3 linked regions of the Homo sapiens genome follow. The protein of the gene in region 1 purifies or fractionates together with the protein of each later gene. This does not show direct contact. Each region holds a gene or a part of one and is shown on either strand. Other genes may lie near its edges.

Region 1 (7,243 bases):
GAGAGGGAGGCAAACATTGCTGATCATTTGCCCAGAGTCATCAGCTAATAAACGTCAAAAGCAGGATTTGAGCAGCAAGTTCAGGGCCACTGGCTCCCACCTGGCCCTTTGTAGTGACTTGTTCTGCAGCCCCAGGATGTTCAGACACACACAGTGGGATCTGAATATAAAAAGGCAGAGACTGAAACAGTGGAACATTCCAGTTCGCTCCGAAAAAGGAGAAGAGCCCTGCAGCTTTTGCAACCCCTTCTGAAATCGCTTGCCTGGATCCCCATCGTCAGGGCCAAGCTGAACACCCACCTCAGCCCTTCCCGCATTCAACACTTGACTCGAAGCAGGGCCTTGTCAATTCCTCTCAATTCCTACTGCTCCTCTCCCTCTGCTGACCTCTTATCATTGCCAAGACTCTTTCCTTACACTCGGGTATTGCTAGGTTTCCATGGGCATGAACAGTGGAGTCATCTTTCTGTCAACTTTTAGAATCCTTACAGTTTGGAGGCCAGGTGCGTGGCTCACGCCTGTAATCCCAGCCTTTCCAAGGTGGGTGGATCGTTTGAGGTCAGGAGTTTGAGACCAGCATGTCCAACGTGGCGAAACCCCCTCTCTACTAAAAATACAAAAATTAGGCAGGCATGGTGGTACACACTTGTAATTCCAGCTACTTGGGAGACTGAGGCACGAGAATCACTTGAACTCGGGAGGCAGAAGCTGCAGTGAACTGAGATACTGCCACTGCACTCCAGCCTGGGTGACAGAGCAAGACTCCATCTGAAAAAATAATAATAATAATCCTTAAAGTTTGAAACTATCTTTGAATAAAAATGTACATACGTATTTTTTTGCTCTGTGCGGATAAGGGGTTTGGGAAACAGAGGAAAGATCTCTGAGGCTGGAAGGAAGCTGTGTGTGTAGCTGAAGCTACCTAGGCCGTAGGTGCCTGTGTGAAGACACAGAGTCAGACCCTTGCTTCCTGCCAGGTGAGGGGAGCTTGGAGACCTGATGCCTCCAGGGTTTATTACTCTGCAGTGCTAAGCCCTTGAGCATTGAGTCAGTGGCCCTGAGTAGATCAACATCTGAGGACAAGGGCAGGTGCTGTTAGAGGAGTACGCATGTTTCGGAGCTTGGAGGATGAGGAATAGAATGGAGGGATCTACTTTGAGCATTTCCTCTGCCTATCTGTTGTGTCTGGGAGAGATGCCGAGGAGGAGGAACACGGGTTGAGTCCACATGGCTAATGCAGGGTGGTCCTTAACTTCGACACCTGCAGAGCCCCTTTTGTCATGTAAGGTAACATACTCCCAGGTTTCAGGACTTGAACACAGGTATCTTTGGAAATTGGGGGCAGCAACAGAGACAAGGTTGGACCCGCTGAACTTTACTCCCTATCTAAACCAGTGGTCTCCCACCTGGGACACAGGACCCAGGACCCCCAGGTGCCCATGGCCTCGTCTTCAGGGGGACCCGTGACCCTTTTAAAAGTGTAGGTTGGGGGAGCCCCTATAGGTTGAAAAATGCGCTTTCATGGAGCAGATTTTTTTTTTTCTGAGACAGAGTCTCACTCTGTTGCCAGGCTGGAGTGCAGTGGTGTGATCTTAGCTCACTGCACCCTCTGCCTCCCAGGTTCAAGTAATTCTGCTGCCTCAGCCTCCTGAGTAGCTGGGACTACAGGCATGCACCACTATGCGCAGCTAATTTTTTCTTTTTTTTAGTAGAGATGGGGTTTCACCATGTTGGCCAGGATGGTCTCCATCTCTTGACCTCGTGATCTGCCTGCCTTACCCTCCCGAAGTTCAGATTCTCTTAAGGAGTTGTTTCTTCTTCTGTGGCTTCAGAGGAGGCACAGCCGGGCTGGTCAGGACAGGGCTACTGTCTCCATTACACAAGCAAAAAGGCCTCCAAACTAATTCCTAGAGATGTGGAAAGCCAATTTGCAGGCTCTTATGTTCTCTGTCTAGGACATATGGAAACTTCTTGATGCAAAAGAATGGCCTCCCCTTTTCCTGGAGTGCAATCCCAGCACCTGGCTGGATGTGCACGCTCCGGCTCGTAGGTCTGTCTCTGGCCAGCTCTGAACCCTGTGTTCTACACTCCGTGAGAGTGACCGCCGATGGAACCTGCTTGTACCGCCTCCAAGGCAACACTTGGAAGACTGGAATAGTTAGAATACAGTATGGCCTTTCAAAACCATAGTGTCCAGCTTTCCTGGATCACAAAATCAACTGGGCAGTTCCATCTGCCAGCCCTTCCCCTCTGCCTGTCAGCCATGGTGGAGATGTCATCAAGAACACTAGTATTGGACGCCAGGCACAGTGGCTCATCCCTGTAATCCCACTTTGGGAGGCCAAGGCAGGAGGATTGCTTGGGGCCAGGAGTGTAACACCAGCCTGGGCAACCTAGTGAGACCCCATGTCTATTAAAATAATTTTTTTGTTGGGGCATGGTGGCTCACGCCTGAATCTCAGCACTTTGGGAGGCCAAGGTGGGTGGATCACTGGAAGTCAAGAGTTCAAGACCAGCCTGGCCAACATGGTGAAACCCCATTGCTACTAAAAATATGAAATTAGCTGGGCATGGTGGTGCATGCCTGTAAGCCCAGTTACTCAGGAGGCTGAGGCAGGAGAATTGCTTGAACCTGGGAGGCAGAGGTTGCAGTGAGCCAAGATCACACCACTGCACTCCAGCCTGGGCAACACAATAGGACTCCATCTCAAAAAAAAAAAAATATATATATATATGATATATAATAGATAATATAGTATATTTTATATGATATATATGATATATTATCTATATGTATCATATATTATCTATGATACATATAATATACAGATAATATATGATATAGATAATATATGATATATATCATATATATCATATTATCTATCATATATATCATATAATAGATATTATATATGATATATATATTTTTTTTAATTAGCTAGGCATGGTGGCATATATCTGTAGTCCAGCTACTCAGGAGGCTGAGCCATGAGATCGCTTGAGCCCAGGAGTTTGAGGCTGCAGTGAGCTATGATCATACACTGCCCTCCAGCCTGGGGAGCAGAGTGACAGAGTGAGACACTCAGGAAAAAAAAAAAAATGCCGGACGCCAGTATATGCTAAACAGCCCAAGATGCCAGCATCCAGAGAGTGTGCATATTCCTTGTGTGGATGCTGGAGCTGGGCCACCTGGTACAGGGACGTCAGGCTCTGTGCCAACCCTCATTCACAGCAACTGCGGGCTGTGGAGCCGGGTATGCCCTTGCTGCAGAGGACCTGAGACACCCACCAGGCTCTCTTGGAGACACAGTTATATCAATAAAAGGAGTTAAGTTTGAGCTGTATTTATTTTAGGGTGGCTTTTAATTTGGTTTAATCAGAATTACTCATAAATTATCGATTAATTACCTTCTGCTGTTCAGTTAAATCCTCTCAGCCACGGAGCCAGCTTCGCTGCGCAATGAATGCCATCCACCGTAATTATAGGGCACTTTGTCAGCATTTAATCAGCGGTACTTATTAATGTGGCATTGATGTGTGGTGGCCAGCCCCACGCTATCCATCATGGGTGAGCAGCCAGCACAGATTTGGACACCATTGCTCTCTGTCCCATTAGCCAGCCCCTGGGCTTTCGGGCCAAGCATCATGCTCGCTTTTCACTAAATGGACACTCTGTCTCTTCCATTCAATCCCATTTTTATCACTGTCGACTTAAACACTCATAAGCTTTTGAACTTCAGTCCAGAACGGCTGAGCAGGGCCTGACCACTTCTCCCAGTGAGTGTGAAATCCCAAGAGACTGGTCCGTGATCGGACATCATGGCATGGCGTGCATGTGTAAGAGAATTTTATATTCAACACAGCGTAGCACCCAGAGAACACAGAAGTGATCTTTTGGTTTTCTTTGGCTTACTGAATATTTTTGGAGATTCTTCTATTCCTGAAAGCTCTTCCAGTGAAAGCTATCTTGTGTTGGCAAAATAGATCTGATAGTGTCCTTTCTCTGTCTTTGCAGCCTCTACGGCAGACACATGCAGGCCAACCCAGAACCACCGAAGAAGAATAATGACAAATCGAAAAAGATCAGCCGGAAACCCCTGGCAGCCAAGAACAGATAAGGAAGGGATTGGCATCGGCTGGCCTTCCAGCACCTTCTCTCTCCAACACTTCATTCTCTCTTGCCCTGTCTCTCAAATAAACCCAATGCTGCGTGTGAGGCCTTTTTTATTTTTCTTTTCACTCTCTTTCTAATGCTTCCCACCTTACCTTTTAGATTCTTTTGCTAGGTGGGAGATTGTTATAAGGTCTTTAAACCATTTCCATTTGTTTCTTTAACATTACCAAAAGCAGGGAACAAAGCTCTTATTCAACTGCGAATTCCATAGTGGGCTCTGGCTTTTCTTGAATAGATATCACAAGGTTGCTTATTATCAAAAGAATAATTAAAATCATGTAACCATTTAAATGTCACTGTTAACACTTTTCACTCTTTCTGTTGATTCACCTAACTCATTATTTTGCTTTATTAAAAGTCTTCCTTCACCACCGAGATATGCTAATTTAACTTACAAATGATTTTAATAAAATCTTGAGTTTGTATCACATGTTACTTATTGACTCAGAATAAAAGAACAGTCTGATCTTGGGGTATAACACATTTTCATTTACTTTTCTCCCCCAAAATCATCTTATCCAATTTTATTGGTTATACATGATAAACTTTTCATGAAAGAAATGCAAAATTAAATCACAGTTCGTTTCTTCTCACATTAATTTGTCAAGTTTTTTTTTTCTTTGAAGACTTTCTAAATTAGGAAGCAGAAAAACAAATCTCTAGGAGATTCTGCCAAAGGATTTTGGAAAGTAGCATTCCTTCGCCGAAGAAATGGTGATTTCTGCCAGGGGCTGGTAGACAAGAACTGTGAAAGAGAGAGAGAAAAAACCTCAACTGTGTATTTTGTCACGGCGGAAAATCTGCTCGCATCGAAGCATTCTTCTAAGCGACTTCGATGCCAAGGAAGTTGTGTAAATGTGCACGCGCTACACCACACCCAGGGTGGAAACCACAGTTGCAGAGTCATTAAACAATCAATTGTTTGTTTAACATCTGTGATAGGCAGCTTTCCTTCTTTTCAACAGTGATACCTACGAAAATCAAAATAAATGCAAGCTGAGGTTTTGTGCTCACTGAAAGGGCTGTCAACCCCAGAAGGCCGACACAAAAAAAATGGTATGTGAAGATGCACCGTCTTTTCAAATGGCCTGGGAGAGTCAAATGGCCTGGGAGAGGGGGCCTGCCCTTCTCTGCTGTGTCCTTTCGGCTTCCCAGTTGAGCTCCCAAGACCAGGACCCACTGGGGCATATAAAATCTCTGCTGTATCCTTTCGGCTTCCCAGTTGAGCTCCCAAGACCAGGACCCACTGGGGCATATAAAAAAGTCAAAAATCAAAATCAAACAACAAGTTCTGAGTTACTTAGGAAACAGACTTCGCATTTCAATCAGAGAGGCCACAGAGCAAGGTCTAAACTTCTGGCTTCTAGACAAATTCCTGATAGAACATTTAAATGTGGGAAGTGGCTTCCCCAGGTCCCATCCCCTGTTTAGGGATAGAGTTGATATCATTTTTATAGGTGCCATGTATGCCTCTGCCTGAATTTTTTTAATTGACTTTTGAGCTTTTGAGATTGCACGAGGGAGAACAAGGCCTTTGCTGTTGTGGATAGGAAAGACTTAACCTAAAATTAAACCAGCAAGAAAGCATTAGTAAAAATCTAACAATATGAAGGGCTCTTATGAGTCATTTTTTTCAAAAGATGAAAACTCCAGAAACGCACAGGAACGAAATACCTCCCAGAAACATGAAGCAATCATCGAAGACTCACTGGTAATATTTTTAAAAAGTATACAGATCAAAGCAAAAAGAAGCCATGTGTAACAAAGAGAAATGTGCAAATATTTTTTAAGGCAGTATTAAGTGCAAGAGGAGTAACATGAAATAAACATTCTTTCACATGGCTACTGGGAATATAAATTTCGCTCCAGAAAGGCCGTAGCAGTTTGACGATAGGTGGCAAAACCTTAAGATTGTGTACTGGGGCCCAGAATTTTTATTTCTAGGAATGTATCCTGAGGAAATTATCCGAGATCCCCACAAACTGCAATGTTTAGGAATTGTCCTTATAGCATTGCATACACAAGAAAAACAGAGAAAAGCCTGATCCCTGTCAGTGGAAAAGGGGTTCAATGAATTACGGTGTGTCTGCATGAGGCTTTTATGACATTAAAAATTGTTGAACAACGGCCAGGCACAGTGGCTCATGCCTGTAATCCTAACACTTTGGGAGGCCAAGGTGGGAAGATTGCCTGAGCTCAGGAGTTTGAGACCAGCCTGGGCAACACGGTGAAACCCCGTCTCTACTAAAATACAAAAAATTAGCCGGGCGTCGCAGCATGCGCCTGTAGTCCCAGCTGCTCAGGAGGCTGAGGCAGGAGAATTGATTGAACCCGGGAGGCAGAGGTTGCACTGAGCTGAGATTAAGCCACCGCACTCCAGCCTGGGCGACAGAGCAAGATTCCGTTCCCAAGAAAAAAAAATTGTTCAACAATAAGGGCAAAGGGAGAGAATCATAACATCTGATTAAACAGAAAAAGCAAGATTTTTAAAACTAACTATATAAGGATGGTCCCAGCTGTGTCAAAAGGAAGCTTGTTTGTAATACGTGTGCATAAAAATTAAATAGAGGTGAACACAATTATTTTAAGGCAGTTAAATTATCTCTGTATTGTGAACTAAGACTTTCTAGAATTTTACTTATTCATTCTGTACTTAAATTTTTTCTAATGAACACATATACTTTTGTAATCAGAAAATATTAAATGCATGTATTTTTCAAAATCAAATTGGTATGTCATGGTATATTATGCAATCCAGGAAATATATATTTAAGCTCAAGGCATAATATAAAATGTCAGGAGGGTTTTTTCTCTTTTTGTTACCAAAATGGATTTCACGTCTTTTCCTACAGTTTTTAGTTACTTGATATCTGGATCAGCAAACAAAATATCCAAAGTTTGAAAGGTGGCCTTTTTTTTTTTTGAGACGGAGTCTCTCTCTGTCACCTAGGCTGAAATGCAATAGCGTGATCTCAGCCTACTGCCACCTCCGCCTCCCGGGTTCAAGCGATTCTCCTGTCTCAGCCTCCCGAGTAGCTGGGATTCCGGCACCCGCCACCACGCCCAATT
Region 2 (7,243 bases), on another chromosome or scaffold:
CTGTCCTCTCTCTTCCTCAGCATGCGGACTCAGGTTTGGTCAACATCACCACTTCTCCTGCAGGGTTTTACAGTTTACAAGGCACCCGATTCCCCACCCACGGACCCAGCCACCCACGAGACAGCCTGGGTCTGCCCAAGGTCTCGATACCAAGAAACCGGGTGCAAGGCCAGGCTCCAGGGTCTCCTGCCTACCACTGAGAGCCCAGCTCACCAAAGCACGGAGACCTCTGGCCCAGCACAGAGAGCCCTGAAGCCACACCCTCATGGCCCTGCTTCCAGGGGAGGGAGGTGGGGAAGGAGTGGGCAGGACCGAGGAGAACTTTCCAGCTTCTCCTGGTTTAGTCTTTCACCTGCCGGGTTCATGTCTTGGCTGAAAATACCGTGATGTCACATCTCATAATGCCAGGGTCATAGACAAACAGCCCACTAGGTGTTGCTGCCACCAGTATTTGGGGTTGAGTCCCAACAAGAACCCCCCAAGGCTGCTTCTCTCTCTCAAAGTCCCTCTGATCCACCCATCCATAAACATTGCCTCTCTCCTCTGCAGCATGGGGAGGATGGAGAATTGTGGCCTGACCAGGTCCCTTTTCTAGGATCTCCCTAACCCTTCTCCTGTTCTTCTCCCCTGCAATGTTCTACCTCTTACAGAGCAGGGAGATGAACCCAATTTTAAGATGCAAGGCCAGATGGGATGATGATGAATGTGGATGACAAATGTGGATGACGAATGTCGAGAGGACGGGCTCCCTCCAGACAGTCCCTCCCCCTGTGGCGTGGAACTCACAGTCCACGCTCCACCGGAGCGCCCAGCCTCGGGGCCGCAGCAGGTCATGTACTGCTTCCAGCACCGTCTGCAGCTTCTGTTTCTGCCCTATTTCGGACTGTGTCACCTCAGCCACATTCAGCTTGCACCCTGCCAGTTTTTCTGCAATGAGAAGCACAAGAGAAGAGGGTCAGAAAAAGCTGGAAGGGCCAGGCGCAGTGGCTCATGCCTGTAATCCCAGCAGTTTGAGAGGCCGAGGTGGGTGAATCACTTCAGGCCAGGAGTTCGAGACCAGCCTGGCAAATATGGTGAAATCCCGTCTCTACTAAAAATATAAAAATTAGCCAGGCGTGGTGGCGCACACATGTAATCCCAGCTACTCGGGAGGCTGAGGCAGGAGAAGTGCTTGAACCCGGGAGGTGGAGGTTGCAGTAAGCCAAGATCATGCCATTGCACCCAAGCCTGGGCAACCTGAGTGAGACCCTGCCTCAGAAAGAGAGAGAGAGAGAGAGAGAAAGAAAGAAAAAGGAAGGAAGGAAGGAAGGAGAGAGAGAGAGAAGAAAGAAAAAAAGAGAGAGAGAGAGGGAGGGAGGGAGGGAGGGAGGGAGGGAGGAAGGGGAGAGAGATATACTGGAGGAACTCAAAACCACCAAGACCCCAGCCTCAAGGAGGTCCCCGAAGCGGGGCAGGTTACCATGTGGCCATGGGGGCGTCTTGAGATGTTGAACCATGAACGCTGAGCTTCCAGGTCACTAATCTTCCTTAGAGAATGACGCCAGATTGAAAAGGGAAGAATAGTTAAGGATAAAACTGTGGGTGTTATACTCGGGAACATTCTATGCATACAAAATGGAAAAAACATAATAAGATGTAGTTGAGAGGCAAGGAGGTTACCTGGGAAGAATGAAAGTGGGAGTCAGGAGGTGAGAAGACTGTCCCTGTGGGTCCCAAAAGGGAGAGGACTGATAAAGATAATTTTAAAAAAGGTCTTAAAAGCTGCCTCTGCCTCCCCACACACCTGAGGCTCCCATTCTTGTTTCTTAAACATTCTAATGCCACAATAGGAAGTTAGATTAGATATTCACAGAACTGGCGATGATTTTATTACCAAGAATGAACAGGAAACAATCCGGAGGAGCACAGACAAGAACTGTCACATTTCATCAAGATTCAATTACTGAGACTGAGCTCCAGCCCAGCCTGCACCTCCTTCAATTTCCCTTTTGTTAGCAGTAGGTACTGGCAGGTGCCGGCCACCAGCGCCCCACCCCACGCCCGCTGCAGGGCCACACAGCAGGAAGGACCCCCAGTTTCCCTGCTAGTCTTCGATTCTAAGACTCCAGTGTTTACTGATAGATCCACTCTGCAAAACAACAAAAGCGACGTCACAGAGCATCGTGAGATGGTTCACTGGGAGGGTGACTGCAAGCACTCAGCACAGAGCCTTCAATACACAGCTGCTGTCAGTGACGCGGCATTGACATGCCATCATGAAAGCAATCAAGTCCAGGCCAGTCACAAATGGGGTTTCTGTTTTGCAAGTGGTTCCCAGCACAAAGTTCTGTTTAAAACATTTTAGCTGGAGGCCCCCATGTCTTCAGTGTTATCTCCCCAGCAGCCTCCCCTCCCTCAATTAGAAAACAAACAGCTTTGGCATCCCTTTCAAGATAATAAAATTCTAGAGCAAGGCCTGCTGGGCTCGGAATACCCCTTCGATCATGCGTTTGTTGGCTCACAGATAGGGACTGAACACCTACTATGGGACAGGCACTGTCCTAGGTGCTGGATATGGCACAGATAACAGAGGTCCCTAGTGGGGAGATAAACACCCGTAAAAAACATCTGATTGGGTGGCAATGACTGCAAGAGAAAAAACAAAGCAGCCCAACAAAACACATCCTGCAGGGGAGTGGAAACGATTCCCGCTTATTCATCTGATTTCCCTCCATCTGGATCTAACAGCTCCTCGCTGAGTCATCCACAGCTGTCTGTCTGAATTTGCGCCCTGGAAGTAGAGAGCAAGTAGGTCCCACAGGTGTTCAACAACCATGGAAAGGGCAGAGCAGGGCAGCTTGGAGAAGGAAGGAGAGAGATAGGATCATACAGAACTGGGTGGTCTGAGAGCCTCGCCCACCAGGGAGATGGGAAGCCTGACGCGCCCCCGTTGCACCTGCCACCATCCGGCCCCGCAGACTGAACATGGCCACGTCACCCAGGGTGGAGGAAGAGGAGTCGGCAGAGGAGCGGAGGACACTGGATTCGTTTGTCTGGGCTGCTGCAACGAAGCATGCCACACACCGTGCGGCTTAAACAACGGAGATTTATGTCACAGCTCTGGAGGCCAGAAGTCCAAGATCAAGGCACCGGCAGGGTAGACCCTTCTGAGGCCCCTCTCCTGGCTTGTAGATGGCTGCCCTCTCCTTCCTGTGTCCTTACTTGGTCTCCCTCTGTGCATGTCTGTGTCCTAATCTCCTCTTTTTATAGGAACCCTAGACATATTGAATTAGGGCCCACCCACTCGTATGGCCTCATTTTACTTTCATTACCTCTTTTAATTTTTTTATTTTTTTGAGATGGAGTTTCACTCTCGTCACCCAGGCTGGAGTGCAATGGCACCATCTCAGCTCACTGCAACCTCTGCCTCCCAGGTTCAAGCGATCCTCCTGCCTCAGCCTCCCGAGTAGCTGGGATTACAGGCATGTGCCACCACGCCCAGGTAATTTTTGTATTTTTAGTAGAGGCAGGGTTTCACCATGTTGATCAGGCTGGTCTCGAATTCCTGACCTCAAGTGATCTGCCCACCTCAGCCTCCGGAAGTGCTGGGATTACAGGTGTGAGCCATCACACCCAGCCTATTATTATCTCTATAAATACAGTCACATTCCGAGGTTCAACCTGCAGGGCTGGCTGGTAGCAGGGACAGTGGGAGGCTGCCAGGCTACCCATCTCTCCTAGTGGGCGAGGCTCTCATACCTTGCAATGTGCCTGTATTTAAAGAGGCAGTTAAGGTAAAATGAGGTCACATGGGTGGGCCCTGCATGTAGGACTTGAAAATATGAATTTGGTGGTGGAAACAGCAGGCAACAGAGACCAAAGAGACTGGCCATGCCTGTGTGCTGCCTTAGGCTGGGTCTTGGGTGACTCCTGTGCAACAGAGAATACGGCACATGATCACTTGCATCATCAGACATCACTGTGCCCACTGGCGGGGGCCGCAGGAGCAGCTCAGGGCTCTGTTGTGGCCAGGACCCCTATCTTCCTAGCACAGAAAGAGAGAAAACTGGGGAGGATTCTCCCATGTAGCAGGTGACCCTGAGTGATGGCCACATGGGGGTTGAGTACACATGTGATGAAGAACTTCACCTTCACAAGGAGAGGGTGTGCCCGTGAGTGACCAGCAGGACGACAGCCAGGAGCTCCCACAGCACGGGCACCTCACTCTGGCCATATGCAGTCTACCTTGAGGGCTGCACTGCAAACACAGGGGAGCTACACCCCCAGAAACCTGGCATGTGGCAGAGAACCCGGCAGCTGCTTCCAGAATCTTCTCTCAAGAAGAGGGATTCGGCTGGGTGTAGTGGCTCATCCCTGTGATCCCTGCACTTTGGGAGGCCAAGGTGGGAGGATCGTTTGAGCCCAGTTCAAGACTAGCCTGGGCAACATGGCAAAACCTCAGCACTACAGAAAATACAAAAATTATCTGGGCATGGTGGTATGCATCTGTGATCCCAGCTTCCCGGGGAAGCTGAGGTGGGAAGATCATCCAAGCCTAGGGGTCAAGGCTGCAGTGAGCTGTGATCACGCCACTGCACTCCAGCCTGGGCAACAGAGTGAGACACTATCTCAAGAGAAAAAAAAAAAAAGAAGAGGGACTCCTCAGGGGTCCTGCTGGTTCACTCTGGGCAATTTCCACATGGCCAAACCAGAAGTCTGTTCTCTTTCCTCCTCTCACCTCCTAGAAACACCTCCTTTACCCTTCCTGAATGCAACACTCCTCTGGCTCCCCCTCCCTTGTGACTGACCTTTGCCAGAACTTCCTCTTCCTGACCACTAATGGCTGACAGCCCAGACCCAGTCCTCAGACCTCTTCTCTACTACGGATGCACAGAAGTTGGCTTTGACCTTGGTATTCAGCTAAAATCTCCTATTTGGTTTGGGCTTCTGCCTTTGGAAAGCCAAAGAGCTGAATGCCTACATCAGTGTCATTCCTGGCATCCTGGAGCTCAAGGATCAGGTGATCACATCAGTAGTATCACATCAAGAGGATCTCACATCAACAGTATATTATGTCATTTCAGTGTAACAACATTCACAAAATGAGGCAAGACATTCTGATGCTGTGTTACTATCTGAATATTCTAGTCCACTGTTCTTTTTTTCAGTACAAAAAAAAAAAGTGGTTTTAATATGTCAAACCACTTGACACTCAAGAGATTTTAGAATTGCCTTCTCAAGTGCTTATGTGATTATTCAAACAAGATGGAACAGCAGCTACTCCACAAGAAAAAGGCTGCTTGAGCCAAAGGAAGCCTCATGTTATACTTTATGGATAACACAACTGATATAGCAGGACTCATGGACAATCACAGCAACTCCGGAGTAAGTGCTGCATTTGCTAGCACTAACTGAAGAGGGAACCAAAAGGATGTGCCTTGAGAGGGGAAGATGCAGCTTTAAAGATGCCCCTGTAATTCTGCTCTATAGAAGGCACTGGCATGGTTTACAGGCAACCACGGCTGAGATGCAGATGCAAATTCAGAGCCTGTCCTGAGATTCTGAGGGCCAGTTCCACAGCCAGGCTGCCAGATACAAGGCTTGCTGACATACTGTTTCAAGTCATTGGGTGGGAGAAGCCACAGGTGCAGGCAAAAGAATCAGAAATAAAAAATGAAAGTGAACAAAACACTCAAGTTTGCTTCTGAAAATATTAGAAAATATCTGCTTCAGGTAGGGAGCAAAGTACCAATTGGGGGGACTGCTTCAACAGAGGGCCATCACCAGCAACAGCCCAATCTTCACATCCAAGATCAAAGAGGAGGTAAGTCTCTACCATAACCAGCCACTCAGAGAGAGAAAAACTGACAGCCCAGGGGCAGCTTCACATGAGGAGTATCCCTTCAGACAGCATCAGCCAAAGGTCCACGTGCTCCTCCAGCCTTCTGAGTTGAAAGTGAGCATCTAGCATCACAAATGTCTGGTTTGAAGACCTCAAGAGCAAGTGGTACCCAACAGTGCTGGGTGTGACTGTACTGATACTGCAATGCAAAACATCAAAACTTTGGCCACTAACGTTTTTAATAATAAAATTGTGATAATTATGACACAATCTTGATGAACATTTCAGACTTATTCTTGTACCATGGGATCTCATTCTAAGATGGGGATTCTCACCTTAGCCAAATATAGATGTTAATTCTTGGGCATTCGGCATTCAGCCAAATAAAATTTGGAACACCCTCTTTGGGTGAAGCCGTGCAGTCCCACGGTGCTAAACATCAGCTCAGTGCTGCTGGGTTCACACGTACACTGCAGCCTGGACTCCAGGCTCACCTGCTCAGCATCACCTCCAAAAGGGCAGGTATCTCAGCCCCAGCATGTACAACACAGACCCCCGCCTTCCCAACCTCCCACCCTACTCCCAACGGCTTCCCATTTACCAGTTGCTCAAGCCACAAACCTGGCCATCAGTCTTGGTTCCTATGGCAGTTTAACTGTACAGTACCTCCCCATGTCTGCCCTTCCACTCTGGGGGCTGAGCTACTTCATCAGATGCCTGGGCCATGGCAATGGTGTCCTGACTGATCTCTCAGTTCCAACTCCTGACTCTCCTCCCCATCCATCCTGCACCCAGAAGCCTAAGTGACCTTTTAAACTCTAACCCAATCCACGTCACAGCCCTACCCAAAACCTCCAATGGCTTCCTGTCACTTGGAATAGACTGTTGTCTAGCAGGGCTGAATGAGATCTGGCCCCAGCCTCATCTCTTGGCTCTCTCCCTCCCTCTCTGCCACCTGGGCCCCGCCTCCGCTTCTTTTCACTGCTCCTCCAACACAACAGGCTCTTTCTCGCTTTAGAGCCTCAGCCCAGAACGCCCTTCCCAAGCTCACTGTGCAGACATGTGCTCAGATGTCGCCTCCCCAGAGGAGCTTCCCTGGATTGCCTTCCCCAACCCCCACCCACCACTGTACCCCATAACCTTCTATTACTTTCCTCCTAGCACTTGTCATTCCTTTAAAACATCATCTAGGTTTCAGGTTGAACCACTCCACCCCATAATACTTCTCTTTCTTCACTCTGCTAGAATGTGTGCTGGGGGAGTGGGCAGGCGCAGGGTGCGGGGCTCATCTCTCTTGTTTCCCACTGTGTCTCTACAGCCAAGAGCCACCCGACACATGTAAGCCAATGAACATTCATTCATCAGATGAATGAATGAATGTGTGACCAAAACAAACACAGACATGTTTCCCTCCAAATATAC
Region 3 (7,782 bases), on another chromosome or scaffold:
TCACTTCGAGCGGGTCTGGTAACAGGTTGATCTGCTAGGTATTCTCCATTTCCACCGTCCCCACTGTGATCTATTCTCTGCACTGCTCTGTGCCCTATGGACGCTGCCCCTATCTATTGCAGATCCCTTGCTCTGATGGCTTCCCACTGGGTTCAGCACCAGTAGGTGATGCACGGGCAAGAAGACAGAGAACATGCAGAATGTGCATTTATTGTGCCACTCTCTCCTTGCTCTGTCTGCATATTTCGGACAGTAGCTGCATCCCTCTATGACTATAGTTCCAGTCCAGCAGCCCCTCGTCCATAACCCCAGCTTGTAATAGGTTCCAATTTGCTTCCCTTGTCCCTCAGGCCTCGGAGTGATTAAGAGCTTCCTCCTGTTGCTAGCCCCTAGGGACCTCAGCATCCCTTCTTAGTTCCCTTAACCCTGCCCACAGCTCTGTCAATAGCCCTTTCACTAAATTATTTTCAAAATCTCAACTAAATTGGCCTTCTTTTTCCTGCAGGGACCCTGTCTGAAACTAAAGAGACAGGATGCAAAAGTCCTTAAAATTATGTCTGTGAGGAATAGAGGATGTTGGGCCTGGTGGAGAGAAGACTCTAGAAAGCAGGATAGCCTACTTCAGCAAGGTAGTAATAAAAGGCCACCCCAGACTCATTCTCTGGCTCTACCAACAGTGATAGGTACAGAGAGATAAATTTCTACAGAGTAGGTAAAGATGGTTATCCTGGTAGGTCATGAGCTTCAATATTTCTCAGTTGCCCCATCTTAAACTGGATGAGACTATGTCAGGAATGCTGCAAGGAAGAAGTTAGAAACATGGTCTAGAAAAGAGCTTCCCAAGCCAGGGTTTCATGATTTGCCACCAACTGTACACTACTCGATGGGTTACCAAAATAACCAATGTGGGGAAACTTTTGTATGTTTTTGCTGCTTCTCGTTTCAATCTAGGGAATAGAAGTCTAGTTCTTCATCAAGTCTGATAATCCTCAGCGCTGAAGATGTTTTTATACTTTAAGATGACTTACAAACATGAAAATTTCACACAGCATCACAGCTTTCAAAAGGTTATTTCTAATTCATGGAGCAATCTATTAAAAACATTTTTTAGGGGGGAAGAGAAGTTGATTAATGGTTACAAATATACCATTTGATATAAGAAGACCTAGTGTTAGATTGGTAAACTAACTATATTTTACAATAACCTCTTGTATATTTCAAAATATCTAGAATTCCAGTGGTCTAGCATAGAGAAAAGACAAATCTTTAACGTGATGGATATCCCAAGTACAGTGATTTTGTCCGAGGCATGTGAACCAGAGCAACTCCATCTTGAATGGGGCCAGGTAAAACAAGGCTGAGTGAGACCTACTGGGCTGCATTCCCAGAAGGTTAAGGCATTCTAACTTACAGGATGAGATAGGATGTGGGCACAAGATACAGGTCATAAAGACCTTGCTGATAAAACAGGTCGCAGTAAAGAAGTCGGCTAAAACCCACCAAAACCAAAATGGCGACAAGAGTGACCTCTGGTCGTCCTCACTGATACACTCCCAGCAGCGCCAGGACAGTTTACACATGCCACGGCAACGTCCGGAAGTTACCCTATATGGTCTAAAAAGAGGAGACATGAATAATCCACCCCTTGTTTAGCATACCATCAAGAAATAACCATAAAAATGGGCAACCAGCAGCCCCAGGCTGCTCTGTCTATGGAGTGGCCATTCTTTTATTCCTCTACTTTCTTAATAAACTTGCTTTCACTTTACTGTGTGGACTCACCCTGAATTCTTTCTTGCGTGAGATCCAAGAACCCTCTCTTGGGGTCTGGACTGGGACCCCTTTCCTGTGCAATTTGATCTTTACAAATTATATGAATGTATTACATTATCACATGTGCCCCAGAACTATGTACATCATGCATCAACTAAAAAATGTTTAAAACAAAAATGTTTAACTCAGCAACTTCTATCTACACACCAGTCACCACAGTGCTTCTTGAGAACTGCCACCTCGTTTTCAAACCAAAAACCAGGACGCAAAATCTGTGCATGGGAAAAAAAAATATTTTACATGCAAACTACCCTGAAAAAAAAAAAAAAAAAAAAGAATAAGGTCGCCTCAATTCACTCTGGTGGGGAAAAAACAAAGGTTTTTACGAAAGCCCTGAATGCCTGAGTTCACAGCAGGCCCATGACGAAGTTTGTGTCTCACGCAGGTTTTCTCCTTTGGTGGGAGTTTATTGTGTATTACACCGAGGGCACGCTAGGTTTGCCAGTTTTTCGCTCATTCATTCAACAAACACTCGATGTCCACCTACTCCATTAACAGAGCCCTTCTCAGCCCTCGGGATGGACAAAAGATCCCGAAGAGGCCAAAGCCACGACGCCGCTGCCAGAGGACGTCAGCAGGTCCAGGAAACGACCTGATTTTAAGGACCAATGAAGGCAACGAGTAAGAGCGACGGCGCCCAGGAAAGCTGCAGCGGAAACTTGGGAAATGCCAGCCTTCGGGCGCAGAGGGCGGGGCAGGGCCTACTGGATCGCACTGTCTGCGGGCTGGGGCCCCGCCTGGGCTCCGGTCCCGCCGCCTCCGGCCGCCAAGCGGCGCCCGCCCACGGCCCGGCGGGGGCGTTGGCCTGGTCCCCGGCCCAGGAGGGCAGCGCCCGGGCGACCGCGAGCGGGCGGGGTGGCCTCGATGGCCCGCGAGCCCCGGGCTCAGTGTGGGGTGCGCGTCGCTCCTGCCCGACGTACCCGGGAAGCGCGCGCACGCATCGCCGCGCGCCCCACCGCGCCGGGCACCCGCGGCGCGCTCCCGCCCGGTCCCAGTGCCCCGGCCCCTCGGCCCCTACGGCACCCCCGGCTCCTACCGCCCGCCCGGCCGGCCTGGCCGCACTCACCCTCCTTGGCTTTCTTCCTCCGGGCCAGGGTCCCTCCGAGTTTCCCCAAGAAGGAATCATCTTTCTTGCGGGACGGGGGCGACTTGGGAGTGGGAGACTTGGGGACAGAAGGCGACTTCTGCGGGGAGGTGGCCATGGCGCGGCGCAGGCTGCCGCGGGCCGGTCGGGACGCGGAGCTGGCGCTGGGCGGACGCAGCGGGCGGCGGCGGGACTGAGGCTGCGGCTTTCCAAACGGAAGCGGAATTATTCCAAGCATTTGAGGCAGCTCACGCTCGCCTTTCCCTTCCCTCGCTCCCTCCCTCGCTCCCTCCCTCGCGCCGCCCTCTGCCCTGGAAGGAGCTGCGCTCCCGGGGCCGCGCCTTGCGCCCCTGGGTTGCCCCAAGCAGGGAGGATGCCCCAAAACTGCCCCTTGCAGGACAGGAGGACGTGTGTGCCCAGGTTGGGAGCGGTCGAGCCGGAAAGCTTCATTTACCCAGGCTCTGTCCCCACCACACAGCCTGGCGCAAAACACATCTGAGAACCAACCCAACCCTGCTACTCTCCCGGGGTCTTCCAGCCGGCGGCTGGTGAGCTCGCTCTGCCCCAGCACTACTGCCTGTGGGGTTATCAGGCCCACGTCTTGCGCCCACAAGACTGCAGCTCCTGGAAGAAATTATTGCAGTGAACCAAAATGTGTCCAGGCCCCACCAAAGTGGGCAGAACCAATCACTCCTGAACCTATCCATGACCGTCAACCTCCTCGTCTCTACTCCCATCCAAGACTGAGAAGCTTGGAGTGCACAAGGGTAAAGCCGAGGCTTCTTATTCTTGTAAGACATCCGTGTTTCCAGCAGCTTATACAAAGGAAGATCCCACGTGGTGGTGGAAACATGAATGGGAAAAGCACAACCATGAGCTCCTACAGGACTTCCCGCAAAATTTATCCTGCCTAAATAAAAGCAAGAGAGTGACAACCAGACTCATTTGAGATAACAGGGGAGTCATACAAAGCACAGTGTTTGAAGGACTCATACTGGAAATGATTAAAAGGCACGTGTTATTGAGCTTACCCATCTCAAGTTCTCACTCTGGCTCTTTGTCCTTCTGTCTGTCTCTCACACACAGACTCACAGCACCTTGGCAACTGTGTTTCCTCCTTGTGGCCCCTTCTAGGCCACAGCTGATTGAACCTGGGTGAACACCTAATCCAAAGGGCGCTACTGCTTTACTGAAGAGCAGACGATCAGCTGGCCCCAGTTAAGACTGCACTAAGCTGGAGAGACTGTTGTCAGAAGTTGTGCTCGTGACTGATGATCATTCGCAATCAAAACTAGGGTGGCTGTTTCTAGCCACGTGCATGCTGAGGAGTAGGGAAACCAAAGAATGGAGCAAAGAAGTGTGCTCAAGAAGCCACGTGGTCTGAGTAATGGAAACCGTGGGGAGTAGCTGCTTGGACCTTGAATCTTTTCCCAGACCCCACTTGCACTTCCTGCCAGGGCCAGCTGTGCTTCTTCCCAGGAGATGTTACTCAGCCTTTTATTAACCCATCCACAGTTCCTTAAACTAAATAAAGTGACAAGCAACAGTTTCTGAGTAGAACTAAAATTTAACAAAAAGATAGTCAACAGATTCTCAACACCGTATAGGTTCATTTTATCTTAAGAGTCTTAATTTTACCTTTTTTAAAAAAAAAAAAAATCTGCTTTAGTTGGTGCCTCTTACTTAACAGCAGAAAAGTCATGATGTCTGCTAGCCTGGGAAGATTACTACAACTCCTCCTAGACAATAAATCTTAAAGGGATGGTGAGAAGCCAAAATATAAGTGTGTTTTGATTACATCATTAATCATTTTTGTTCAGGATATCAGATATAGGACATCTCCAAAAGCGTATCTCCAGCCCCGAGAGCTCTTGTCAGGGAATTAAGAGACACGTAGCTCAATAGCGGTGTGATCTTGGAAAGGTTTACTCCCTTTTCTGAGTCTCCATTTCCTCATCTACAAAATGAAATGGTTGGCACAGAACAGTGGTTTTCAAACTCGATCGTGCATCACAGTCGCTTAGAAGTTTGTTGCATTCACAGGCCCCATCTCCAGAAATTCTGATTCAGTCGATCTCAGGTGAAACCAAGGGATAGGTGTTTTTTAAACAGACTACATCAGGTGATTTCGATGTATTAATAGCTGATTCACACCCTGATGTCTTGCCATTTAGGGCTACTTTCAGCTCTTAACAGTCTGTGGTTCTTTATTCTTTCAAAAATTGCTAATATCTGTATGCAAGGCTTAGTCCTAAATGTGCCATAATCAAAATTACCCATGGAGATTCCTTCAGTTGCCCATGCATGCTTTTGCATATATAATACTCCTCAGTAATTGTTATGTTCGTTAAACTTGGAAAACCACTGAGCAAGGCTAAAAGGAGGAGTAAAGTCTTGATTGTTGAATGCTAGCTCCCAGAAAATATCAGCAAAATAAGCTGTGGAAGAAGGCAAAGCTGAATTTTTTGTACACCATGATAAGGAGAGCCCTGCCTTGGCAGAGTCTCAGTAGCATCTTGGAGTAGGGGAAGGGATATTTATAAGGTTTTGGAATCTTGATGAAGACAGGCCTTCCAGTGGGATGGTGCTTGATTAAGTTTGACTAAGGATCATGATATAATAGATAAGGACTGGTAGACCCTAGGCAAAGCTTTCCAAGAGTCTTGGAGAGTAAATAGTCTTTTTAATGCTATCTATTGAAAAGTCTAATGGGTTTATGTTCATTTCAATGAGATTTGGTGGGGAGTTCTTGAAAAGAACAAGAAAGTTATTCATAGCTTTTTATCTTCCTGGGCAAGAAATTTTTGGAAGACAGGGGAACGATAAAGTCCTGTTAATGTATGCAGTAACCTGCATTGGTGGGAATGGTTGCCAGGGTCTCAATATTATGCTGATACCTTGTTATTCAAGCATTTCTACTGGTAAGATCATTATCAATCTTTCTGGAAAGGCCAGTGGGAATGGGTGGTGAATTATAAATCAGTGCTACTCACAGTGTAGTCTGCAAACCAGTATTGATCTGGATACCATTATTAGCTGCCAAGACCAGCTTGGTCGGGGAGACCCTAACCCAGCGGCGCTAGAGGAATTAAAGACACACACACAGAAATATAGAGGTGTGAAGTGGGAAATCAGGGGTCTCACAGTCTTCAGAGCTGAAAGCCTCGAAAAGAGATTTACCTACGTATTTATTAACAGCAAGCCAGCCAGTCATTAGCATTGTTTCTATAGATATTAGATTAACTAAAAGTATCCCTTATGGGAAACAAAGGGATAGGCCGAAATAAAGGGATGGGTTGGGCTAGTTATCTGCAGCAGAAGCATGTCCTTAAGGCACAGATCGCTCATGCTATTGTTTGTGGTTTAAGAACGCCTTTAAGTGGTTTTCCACCCTGGGCGGGCCAAGTGTTCCTTGCCCTCATTCCGGTAAACCCACAACCTTCCAGCGTGGGCGTTATGGCCATCATGAACATGTCACAGTGCTGCAGAGATTTTGTTTATGGCCAGTTCTGGGGCCAGTTTATGGCCAGATTTTGGGGGGCCTGTTCCCAACAATTAGCCAATGACATAAATGTAGAAATTGAGAGTTTTTAGAAACTTTTATAGCAATTTAACAACACTTTATGTCTGTTTAATCTAACAATAATCAGAAGCTTATATTTTGAATATCTTTTCATTCTATTTTTCTAGTAATTTTTTATTTTTATTTACAAAAATATTGCTCTATGATGAATTGGTCCTTTAGCAGATTAAGAAGCACTGTTCTACATTGCTCGTGTTTACTTAGAGAGTTCATCTACTCTCATTTGATATAATGCTTTTAGAATCCTTAAGAATGTGAATTGATCTGGTTTTTGTTTAGAAGAGTAAATGAGATAATCTGTGGGAAAGCACCATCTACAGGGCCTGGCACTGAAGTAGGCTGAATCTAAATCTTACTTAGAGACATGCTGCATGCTATTCTTTGATAGGATGGGAAGACCTTGTACCAGCTCCCTCCACTCTAAATTGGTATTTACAATTATGTCCCCACTGAACAGCACCTCCTCTCATGCTCGGTCATTGTTTTCATCTTACCCAAGGGATTTGATTCTAAGGACAGATCATCAATTAAATGTGTGATACGTAAGACTCTGCTGAATCTCTAGGCTGCCTCTTCTTGAAATTGGGGCCTAGACAAATGCACTGGAAGAGAATAAACTCAGGTTCCAATCTTAGCTTAGCAGCCAGGTGATCTTGGGTAAATCTCTTCCCTTTCTGCATTTATTTTTCCCATCATCTATAAAATGAAGCCAAGGCAGTACCTACTAAAGCCAACCATCATACATACCTTATGATCAACAATTTCAATTATAGGTTATACCCAACAAAAATGAGTACATGTGTACACACAGAGATAGGCTCTAGAAAGTTCACAGCAGCACCATTCAGCTGCCTGTTAACAGTTGAATTGATTGTGATAACCACAGCAATGAGAGTGAACAATTTGCAACTACAAGCAGCAACAGGAATGGATCTTACAATATAATGTTGAGCGAAGGAAATCAGACACAAAAGAGCACATACTGTATAATTGTATTCAAGTAAAGTTCACAAACAGGCAAAACTACTCTATAATGTTAGAAGTCAGGATATTGATTAGCCTTGGAAGGTGTAGTGACTAGAATGGAGTGGGTGGCATGAGGAAAACCACTGAAGCTGCTAATGTTCTGTTTCCTGATCTGGATACTGGTTACGTGGATATATTCACTTTTAAAAATCAATGAGACATACACATAGTACTTTCAGCAGATTTTCTGTATGTATTTTATACTTCAATAAAAATCTACAGCTGGGCATGGTGGCTCATGCCTGTAATCCCAGCA

What was found. The genes of interacting proteins can lie anywhere in the genome.
Region 2: the proteins of RSU1 (region 1) and PARVB purify together in Homo sapiens (affinity purification with mass spectrometry; 3 studies listed by BioGRID and IntAct, with this or other methods). This does not show direct contact.
Region 3: the proteins of RSU1 (region 1) and PARVA purify together in Homo sapiens (affinity purification with mass spectrometry; 5 studies listed by BioGRID and IntAct, with this or other methods). This does not show direct contact.

Annotation. Positions count from the first base shown.
Region 1 is NC_000010.11:16,590,269-16,597,511, reverse strand, and holds the end of RSU1 (ras suppressor protein 1), read left to right. Parts: intron 1-4,015; coding exon 4,016-4,118; coding exon of another isoform or gene 4,119-4,251; 3' UTR 4,252-6,901; downstream 6,902-7,243. UniProt on the Homo sapiens protein: Potentially plays a role in the Ras signal transduction pathway. Capable of suppressing v-Ras transformation in vitro.
Region 2 is NC_000022.11:44,125,171-44,132,413, reverse strand, and holds part of PARVB (beta-parvin), read right to left. Parts: intron 928-7,243; coding exon 787-927; intron 1-786. UniProt on the Homo sapiens protein: Adapter protein that plays a role in integrin signaling via ILK and in activation of the GTPases CDC42 and RAC1 by guanine exchange factors, such as ARHGEF6. Is involved in the reorganization of the actin cytoskeleton and formation of lamellipodia.
Region 3 is NC_000011.10:12,372,901-12,380,682, reverse strand, and holds the start of PARVA (alpha-parvin), read right to left. Parts: upstream 3,113-7,782; 5' UTR 3,036-3,112; coding exon 2,900-3,035; intron 1-2,899. UniProt on the Homo sapiens protein: Plays a role in sarcomere organization and in smooth muscle cell contraction. Required for normal development of the embryonic cardiovascular system, and for normal septation of the heart outflow tract.